3 linked regions of the Homo sapiens genome follow. The protein of the gene in region 1 interacts with the protein of each later gene in a biochemical or structural test. Each region holds a gene or a part of one and is shown on either strand. Other genes may lie near its edges. The genes, in order: IGSF5, PDZD2 and LDB3.

What was found.
Region 2: the proteins of IGSF5 (region 1) and PDZD2 interact in a test that uses a peptide from one of them, tested with the Homo sapiens proteins (one large-scale study listed by IntAct).
Region 3: the proteins of IGSF5 (region 1) and LDB3 interact in a test that uses a peptide from one of them, tested with the Homo sapiens proteins (one large-scale study listed by IntAct).

The regions. Positions count from the first base shown.
Region 1 is NC_000021.9:39,799,787-39,802,641, forward strand, and holds the end of IGSF5 (immunoglobulin superfamily member 5), read left to right. Parts: intron 1-1,475; coding exon 1,476-1,571; 3' UTR 1,572-2,295; downstream 2,296-2,855. UniProt on the Homo sapiens protein: Provides, together with MAGI1, an adhesion machinery at tight junctions, which may regulate the permeability of kidney glomerulus and small intestinal epithelial cells. Mediates calcium-independent homophilic cell adhesion.
Region 2 is NC_000005.10:32,086,521-32,090,175, forward strand, and holds part of PDZD2 (PDZ domain-containing protein 2), read left to right. Parts: intron 1-610; coding exon 611-3,655.
Region 3 is NC_000010.11:86,716,954-86,720,608, forward strand, and holds part of LDB3 (LIM domain-binding protein 3), read left to right. Parts: intron 1-1,010; coding exon 1,011-1,191; intron 1,192-1,773; coding exon 1,774-1,894; intron 1,895-3,655. UniProt on the Homo sapiens protein: May function as an adapter in striated muscle to couple protein kinase C-mediated signaling via its LIM domains to the cytoskeleton.

The sequences.
Region 1 (2,855 bases):
AGATGGGTCCTAAAGCACATTGCATTCAACGTAAATGAAAAAATAGAAACCTAGACTGTAGAGATCTCAATCATGGATTAAATTGTAAGAAGGGTCAGAAGGAAAAAAGAGATTCATTTTCAAAACTGTCATATACAATATGACAATTTTCTTCTCTGATTATTTCTCTGATGACTGAATCTACAGTTAGAATATGTAGTACTGACATGGTTTTCTAGACAAGAGTTTCCCTGTTGGTGAAACAGAATGAATTTGGGTGCAACTGCAGCTGAAACACATTAGGGTAAAAGTAATAAGTAAAATTAGAAATTCCTACTAAAATAACCAATTACTGGGAAAGGCATGCTTTTTTATTTCAATATGAAGCCAGGGGATTTGCAAATGTTTTTTATTTTGGCGAATATTTAAAACAAAGAATCCTCCTTTTCCTCTCTTTGTCCTGTGCCTTAACTCACTGTCAGTGCATTTTCCTGGCTGTTTTAGGAAATTCTCTGTCTCTGTCATTTTCAGAAGATGGGCATATAAACAACTTGAGACCTGGATCAAGCCTTCCCCACAAATCACCCCCTCATTGAGACAAACAGAAATACATACTTGATAAATTTAGAAAACAGCGATGTTTGCACAACCCAGCAGTGAAAACAAAAGCAAACGACAGTAGGAATCTCTAGCATATTAGCAGCAGAAGGCACATGTCTTAAAGCACTGCTGACATAGTTCCATCCGCTGTCCAGTTTTCCCTGTGTTATTGGGAGTCAACAAATTAAGAGCGTGAGCCAGAGTAATTCTATCCTCAAGACTTGCTAGCATTCCATCACATTGTGAATAATTTATCATGCCCAGTTACATTATTTAAGATGTTAAGTGCAGCTATTGTGCCCTGGAACCTGAGCTGCCATTCTCAGGACTGGCAGGAAAAAAGTGTTGCACACATTTTAATAAGGCAATATTATGAGACAGGCATTGGCCACTCTGGAGGATTAAATGGTTTGTTTGGGATTACATTTCTGAATGAGAACAGGGAAGACTATGTTTCTCCCTGATAGGGAAAAGAGACAGGTGGGTGATCTATCTGGAGTCAGTTCTTCAATTTTGTCCCCCTGTTCTAGAAACAATGCACGCTCTTTAAGAAGTTTAGAAATATTTTATATTTTCATAAAAAATCTAGCCAGTAAAGCAAGAACTTCCTTAGGAAAATTGAAACACAAAACAAAACAATGAGTCGTGGTAATTTGCCTTAGTCAAAACAAATACTGATTCTTGGAATTGGATTGCCCTTTAGGGCCTGAACTTGGAAAACTTCTATATTGTGTGTTACCAGAAATAATGCAAGAAAGGAAGAGCTTATTTTAACATTTTTGTTCCTCTCCGTACCTTAATTTTATCTTAACAGATGAGTGAAGCTCTCTTTTCAAGTTTGCATTTTACAGTGATCTCAACCCATTAAATTGACTTTTTTCCTCCTCTGTTGCCAGCGGGCTGATCAACGTCCACCCAGGCCAGCAAGTCATCCACAGGCTTCTTTTAATCTGGCCAGTCCTGAGAAGGTCAGTAATACAACTGTAGTATAGCAAAGCCTTCCCCAAGCTCCACTGAGCACTTGGCTGACAATTCAAAACACGGCGATGGCATCCTTCCTTTCCATCCTAAGACTGGCCTGCAGCTTTGCCAACATTACCTGAAGAGGAGATGTCGGAGTCATCAGAACTGATACTTGACAGTGAGAGAAGGAATCGATTTTCCCAGAGTTCAAAGTAGAATGTGACTTTTAAGAGGTTTCATGGTTTTTGTGAATTCCATGAAGTTACTAAGTAAAAGCTGCAAATTCATCATAATTTTTCTCAACATTCAACACTCCTACTTGTTAATCCAACAAATGGTAGATAAAAGTCTGTATTCTACCATGCCTTTCAAAAGTTTTTATTATCTGAAAGCATATGAAGATGATATTTATGTATATTTAATATGTAGGGGTATTATTACATATTATCAGTGAAATACGAGTATAAAAATTAGGGTCAACCAGAAATCTGCAATTGACTGTCAAAACTGAGCTCAGTTAAAGTAAGATTCAATTCTAACATGGATGTGCACGTTCCTAAATATCTTATGATTGAATATTTACATGAAGGCATTCATTTTTATCTGCCCCTTTATCAGACCTATTTGCATCTCCTCAAATGAATTAGATGTGGCCTATGCTTTGCAGAGGATGGACCTCACCTACTCCGCACACCGTGAAAAAACTGGAAATGGGCATTGTAGTCTTTAATTAATAAAAACACCAAAAATGTGTATTGCCTTTCTTAACTCTTCACTATTCAGTTGGTCATTTAAAGAATCATAGTATTCGGGAATCAAGCCTTTTCCGAGAAGGAAAACAAGAGCCTTCTGCAAAAATCCATCACATCTTCACAATTATCTTTGCTGACTGTACATTCACTTCATTTAAAGTTAACATGAATGTTGTTATGAAGAATAAATTGCTGCCTTTCCCCAGTATTTTTCTTTTTCCATGTAGATACAGTCAGTGAATTTAACTGCCCATTCCACCCCTTCATATTTAACCTAGGGGCAAGACTGTGATTTGACCGTACTCTGAACTGGTTGGTGCAGATTTCTATGCTGGTTATAATTAGCAACTGCTTTGAGTCCCTCAAGCTCAACCATGCTATTGCTAAAGCAGAATTTGACTTTTAAAATATGTCAGGATTTTAGTGAATTCCTTACGGATACTTAGTAATAGATGCAAATTTGTCATGGTGTTTCTAATCACTCACTCCTGCTTGCTAATCCAACAAATGGTAGAGAAGTCTTACACTACCATGATGTATAAAATACTTTTATAATCTTAA
Region 2 (3,655 bases), on another chromosome or scaffold:
TAAATGTTTCTTCTGCCGGCTAATCTGAGTTCTCTTAGAGCGTCTAAAGCAGGGTGGTATTTGTTAGATGTGGGTACTCTATAATTTTAGAGAGAAAACCAGGAAGACAAGAAGGGCCTCCATTTAGGCCACAGAACGCCGTTTTGTTGTTGTTGTTGTTGTTGTTGTTTTCTGAGACGGAGTTTCGCTCTTTTTGCCCAGGCTGCAGTGCAATGGCACATTCTCGGCTCACTGCAACCTCCACCTCCCAGGTTCAAGCAATTCTCCTGCCTCAGCCTCCCAAGTAGCTGGGATTACAGGTGCCCACCCCCATGCCCAGCTAATTTTTTTTTTTTTTTTTTTTTTTTTAGTAGAGATGGGGTTTCACCATGTTGGCCAGGCTGGTCTCGAACTCCTGACCTCAGGTGATCCACCCGCCTCCGCCTCCCAAAGTGCTGGGATTACAAGCATGCGCCACCACGCCCAGCTTTCTGAAAAAGAAAAAAATATTTGAGGTTGTTTATAATTTTCTAGTTTTTAATAATTGAGGGGCTGCTTTCTTATATTATCCCTTTTATCTCCCCTACAACCTCTCCTGTGTATGTACCTTCTGTTTACGTTCCCCACGTAGAACTGGACAGCTCCTCAGACCTCATCTCTTCCCCAGGGAAGAAGGGGGCCGCTCATCCTGACCCCAGCAAGACCTCTGTAGACACAGGGCAAGTCAGTCGGCCAGAGAATCCCAGCCAGCCTGCATCGCCCAGGGTCACCAAGTGCAAGGCCAGGTCTCCAGTCAGGCTCCCCCATGAGGGCAGCCCCTCCCCGGGGGAGAAAGCAGCGGCTCCCCCTGACTACAGCAAGACTCGATCAGCATCGGAAACCAGCACACCCCACAATACCAGGAGGGTGGCTGCCCTCAGGGGAGCGGGACCTGGAGCAGAGGGAATGACACCAGCTGGTGCTGTCCTGCCAGGAGACCCCCTCACATCCCAGGAGCAGAGACAGGGAGCTCCAGGTAACCACAGTAAGGCTCTGGAAATGACAGGAATCCATGCACCTGAAAGCTCCCAGGAGCCTTCCCTGCTGGAGGGAGCAGATTCTGTGTCCTCAAGGGCACCGCAGGCCAGCCTCTCCATGCTGCCATCCACTGACAACACCAAAGAAGCATGTGGCCATGTCTCGGGGCACTGCTGCCCAGGGGGGAGTAGAGAGAGCCCTGTGACGGACATTGACAGCTTCATCAAGGAGCTGGATGCTTCTGCAGCAAGGTCTCCGTCTTCCCAGACGGGGGACAGTGGCTCTCAGGAGGGCAGTGCTCAGGGCCACCCACCAGCCGGGGCTGGAGGTGGGAGCTCCTGCCGTGCCGAACCAGTCCCGGGGGGCCAGACCTCCTCCCCGAGGAGGGCCTGGGCTGCTGGTGCCCCCGCCTACCCACAATGGGCCTCCCAGCCTTCGGTTTTAGATTCAATTAATCCCGACAAACATTTTACTGTGAACAAAAACTTTCTGAGCAACTACTCTAGAAATTTTAGCAGTTTTCATGAAGACAGCACCTCCCTATCAGGCCTGGGTGACAGCACGGAGCCGTCTCTGTCATCCATGTATGGCGATGCTGAGGATTCTTCTTCTGACCCTGAGTCACTCACTGAAGCCCCACGAGCTTCTGCCAGGGACGGCTGGTCCCCTCCTCGTTCCCGTGTGTCTTTGCACAAGGAAGATCCTTCGGAGTCAGAAGAGGAACAGATTGAGATTTGTTCCACACGTGGCTGCCCCAATCCACCCTCGAGTCCTGCTCATCTTCCCACCCAGGCTGCCATCTGTCCTGCCTCAGCCAAAGTTCTGTCATTAAAATACAGCACTCCGAGAGAGTCGGTGGCCAGTCCCCGTGAGAAGGCCGCCTGCTTGCCAGGCTCATACACTTCAGGCCCAGACTCTTCCCAGCCATCATCACTCTTGGAGATGAGCTCTCAGGAGCATGAAACTCATGCGGACATAAGCACTTCACAGAACCACAGGCCCTCGTGTGCAGAAGAAACCACAGAAGTCACCAGCGCTAGCTCAGCCATGGAAAACAGTCCGCTGTCTAAAGTAGCCAGGCATTTTCACAGTCCGCCCATCATTCTCAGCTCCCCCAACATGGTAAATGGCTTGGAACATGACCTGCTAGATGACGAAACCCTGAATCAATACGAAACAAGCATTAATGCAGCTGCCAGTCTGTCCTCCTTCAGTGTGGATGTCCCTAAGAATGGAGAATCTGTTTTGGAAAACCTCCACATCTCTGAAAGTCAAGACCTGGATGACTTGCTACAGAAACCAAAAATGATCGCTAGGAGGCCCATCATGGCCTGGTTTAAAGAAATAAATAAACATAACCAAGGCACACATTTGAGGAGCAAAACCGAGAAGGAACAACCTCTAATGCCTGCCAGAAGTCCCGACTCCAAGATTCAGATGGTGAGTTCAAGCCAAAAAAAGGGCGTTACTGTGCCTCATAGCCCTCCTCAGCCGAAAACAAACCTGGAAAATAAGGACCTGTCTAAGAAGAGTCCGGCAGAAATGCTTCTGACTAATGGTCAGAAGGCAAAGTGTGGTCCGAAGCTGAAGAGGCTCAGCCTCAAGGGCAAGGCCAAAGTCAACTCTGAGGCCCCTGCTGCGAATGCTGTGAAGGCTGGGGGGACGGACCACAGGAAACCCTTGATCTCACCCCAGACCTCCCACAAAACACTTTCTAAGGCAGTGTCACAGCGGCTCCATGTAGCCGACCACGAGGACCCTGACAGAAACACCACAGCTGCCCCCAGGTCCCCCCAGTGTGTGCTGGAAAGCAAGCCACCTCTTGCCACCTCTGGGCCACTGAAACCCTCAGTGTCTGACACGAGCATCAGGACATTTGTCTCGCCCCTGACCTCTCCCAAGCCTGTTCCTGAGCAAGGCATGTGGAGCAGGTTCCACATGGCTGTCCTCTCTGAACCCGACAGAGGTTGCCCAACCACCCCTAAATCTCCTAAGTGTAGAGCAGAGGGCAGGGCGCCCCGTGCTGACTCCGGGCCGGTGAGTCCGGCAGCGTCTAGGAACGGCATGTCCGTGGCAGGGAACAGACAGAGTGAGCCGCGCCTGGCCAGCCATGTGGCAGCAGACACAGCCCAACCCAGGCCGACTGGCGAAAAAGGAGGCAACATAATGGCCAGCGATCGCCTCGAAAGAACAAACCAGCTGAAAATCGTGGAGATTTCTGCTGAAGCAGTGTCAGAGACTGTATGTGGTAACAAGCCAGCTGAAAGCGACAGACGGGGAGGGTGCTTGGCCCAGGGCAACTGTCAGGAGAAGAGTGAAATCAGGCTCTATCGCCAGGTCGCAGAATCATCCACAAGTCATCCATCCTCACTCCCATCTCATGCCTCCCAGGCAGAGCAGGAAATGTCACGATCATTCAGCATGGCAAAACTGGCGTCCTCCTCCTCCTCCCTTCAAACAGCCATTAGAAAGGCAGAATACTCCCAGGGAAAATCAAGCCTGATGTCAGACTCCCGAGGGGTGCCCAGAAACAGCATTCCAGGGGGCCCCTCGGGGGAGGACCATCTCTACTTCACCCCAAGGCCAGCGACCAGGACCTACTCCATGCCAGCCCAGTTCTCAAGCCATTTTGGACGGGAGGGTCACCCCCCACACAGCC
Region 3 (3,655 bases), on another chromosome or scaffold:
TGACACCCACTCTCCCAGGGAGCTGGGAGGAATGGCATGAGGTATGTGGGTGAAGCTCCAGCAGGATGCCTGGTGCCAGGAACTCCCCCTTGGGCTAAGGTTGAGGTCTGGGAATCACCAGGCTTGTCAGTAGGTTTACAGGGCATTTTGTTAGACAGTGTTGGTTTTGACCCAGTTTTCCTTTAGGGTTGTTTCTGGGTCTTTCCACAGACAGGCCTGGGCTGCTCAGGGGGTTGGTGGGCATCTGCCAGACTAAAATGAAAACAAGTGATTTCATACTTAGAAGCCATGGACCATGGGTGCTGTTGTTTGAATACAGTATGTTTGTGTGCATGTGTGGTGTGAGCTTATATACGTGAAAAATACACTTTTATTTAAAACTAAAGTAATACATACTCATTAGTGAAGAATTGGAAAACACAGAAAAGTAAAAATTAGAATATAAAAAAATGTCTTCATAGTCCCACTGTTCTGACTGCTAACCTGGAACTAGACAATACAAGTTTGTATCCTGGTCTACCACTTACTAGCCCTATGGCCTTAAACAAGTTGTTCAAACTCTGTGTGCCTCAATTCCCCTATCTAAAAATGGGTATTATAATAGTACCTAGTGCGTAGGATTGTTGTGAGAATTAAGCAAGTTAATAAATGCAAAAGTCTTCTTGAATAGAGCCTGACACAGAGTAATCACTTAATAAATGTTAGCCATCAGCATCATCATTATTGCATTTCTTACTATCATTATCAGTGGTCAACTGAATTCTATAATATGTTTACCCAGTCCCCTATTGGTAGATGTTTGAGTTGCTTCCTGATTTTCTTTATTGTAAGTGATGCAACAATGAACACCTTTCTGCATGGAGCTTTCTCTGAATTTCACATTACTTCATCAGAACAGTCACAAAAGTCAGAGTTATTGGGTAAAAGTATAAACAGTGTTGGGGTTCTTCAAATATCTAATTCCAAGTTCTGGGAGCTGCCTTACTGGGTGCCATTCTGTGCTTCCCCAGGGGCCCATTTCTGGTAGCCATGGGCCGTTCTTGGCACCCTGAAGAGTTCACCTGTGCCTACTGCAAGACTTCCCTGGCAGATGTGTGCTTTGTGGAAGAGCAGAACAACGTTTACTGTGAGCGATGTTATGAGCAATTCTTTGCCCCGCTGTGTGCCAAGTGCAACACCAAAATTATGGGGGTAAGTGGGAGGCCTCCATTTCCTCTGACCCATGTCTCTTCCCCAGCCCTTCCCCAAGATCGTGGGATCCCATTAGGAAGCCAAGAAGTTGCTGGTAACAGAGAAAGCAACTCCATTTTTATCCTAAAAGGGAATTGGTTTGCCACCAATAAACTTGGGGATAAATGAACTTGATGCAAGAGATGATTGTGTGCCTGTTCCACACAGCTTGAAGTGGTGGTGGAACTTCTGCAAAGCAAGTGGTTGCTTCACAGCCTGACCTTACCACTCACCAGAATGTGGCCTTAACCCTCAATGCCCCTTTGGTAAATGACAGTAATAAGCAGTACCTCCTCCCAGGTTTAATGGGAGGATTAAGCCTCACAGTTTATGTAAGAAAGCACAGAACCTGGCACCCAGCTGGAGAGTGACAACCCCTTCTCTGACACCCCTGGGTCTTTCTTCAGAGTGACCAAGGCCTGCATCCTGAGATCTCCTGCCCTGTTCCCTGGTAGGATGCTCGGGCAGTGGCTGGAGCCTGGTGGGGTAGTCAAGCCCGCTCCCTCTCTCCTTTCTGTCCTGAGCTTAGGCTCTTTCCCCCAGGAAGTAATGCATGCCTTGAGACAGACATGGCACACCACCTGCTTCGTCTGTGCGGCCTGCAAGAAGCCTTTTGGGAACAGCCTCTTCCACATGGAAGACGGGGAGCCCTACTGCGAGAAAGGTAGGAACACTTCGATGGCATGTGGGGAGGCCCCACAGCCTGGGAGAAAGGGGCAGGCACAGGGAACTAACTCCTGCCTAATCCATTCACATCCGACCACCCAGAGGCCTTTATTTCTGGAAGAAACCTTTGTTTTTGCTTTTAATGGCAGAATCATGCTAATATCACACAAAGGAAGTTAACTATCTCCCCTGCCCATATGGTTGCAGCTTTGGGGAGAGTGAGGTGCAGAGTCTATAGCTTATTTTATGCATCAAATATGTGGATCTGGTTAGGTGAGGTGGCTCACACCTTAATCCCAGCACTTTGGGAGGCCGAGACAGAAGAATTGCTTGAGCCCAGGAGTTTGACACCAGCAACATAGCAAGACCCAGTCTCTACAAAAAATATAAACATTAGCCAGGTGTGGTGGCGCGTGCCTGTAGTCTCAGCTACGCAGGAGGCTGAAGTGGGAGGGTCGCTTGAGTCCAGGAGTTCGAGGCTGCAGTAACCTGTGATAGCACCACTGTATTCAGCCTAGGCAACAGAGTAAGATCCTGTATCTCAAAAAAAAAAAAAAATGTAGATCACAAGTTGGCATCTTATGACCACTGGGAAACCTTTCAGGTTATTTTGATTTGGAGACCACAAGGTCTAGTCTGAAAAGGCCTTGGCTGTGGACTTTGTCCTTCATTCTATTCCTGGTTCCACTTTGGGCTGCTTTGTAAACCTGAGCAAGTTACTAACCTTCTCTGAGCCTTACTTTCCTCGTCTGTAAACACCTGCCTTACAGAGCTGTGGTGAGGATTAAACCAGAGAAGGCGTGTAGAGCATCAAATATGCGAGACCCCTTCCTCTGCCCCTGTGATATTTATCAGACTTTGATGTTCCTGCAGATTCCTGTAATCTCACGGAGTGAATTCAGAGTTTCTCTGTACCCCCAAAATGCTATATGTTATCTTAAAATGCTAAGTAAATTATTGTAAATTCAAGAGACAAAGCACTTCATTAGATAGGTGGAAGTCAGTCACTCATTTATTCAGAGGCTTCCCCCTTCAGAAAGGATTTGAAGCAGGTTCCAGAAAAGGTAACACAGACATGAAGGCTAAGACAGTAGAACCAGAAAATCAGAGGCGGGAAAAGCAGGCATGCTGATTATGAAGAATAACAGAGCTGCAGGGACTAACTGGGTAGCAAATTTGAGGGCAAAAAGAGAAACACAGTAAGTTAGTTTACTTTAAAATCAGAAAGGAGAAAACATTCAGTTCCTCAAGGGAAAAAGCAAAACAAAATAAAACTTCTTTCCCCTGACTGTAAATTAGAAAATAAACGTTTTGGCTGGGCGCGGTGGCTCACGCCTGTAATCCCAGCACTTTGAGAGGCCAAGGCAGGCGAATCACCTGAGGTCAGGAGTTCAAGACCAGCCTGGCCAAAATGGTGAAACCCCATCTCTACAAAAATACGAAAATTAGCCGAGCATGATGGCGGGCGTCTGTAATCCCAGCTACTCGGGAGGCTGAGGTTGAAGAATCGCTTGAACCCGGGAGGCAGAGGTTGCAGTGAGCTGAGATACTGCCGTTGCACTCCAGCCTGGGCAACACAGTAAGACTCCATCTGAAAAAAAAAAGAAAGAAAGAAAAGAAACGTCTTGGGTTCTTGTACTAGTGAATGCCCTTCCCAGCTCTGAAGTTAACTGAATGACCTGAAACAAGTCACTTACTCTGTGCCTCAGTTTCTATATCTGTAAAAGGGAGAAGATAATACCAGACCTTTCCTTTCTCA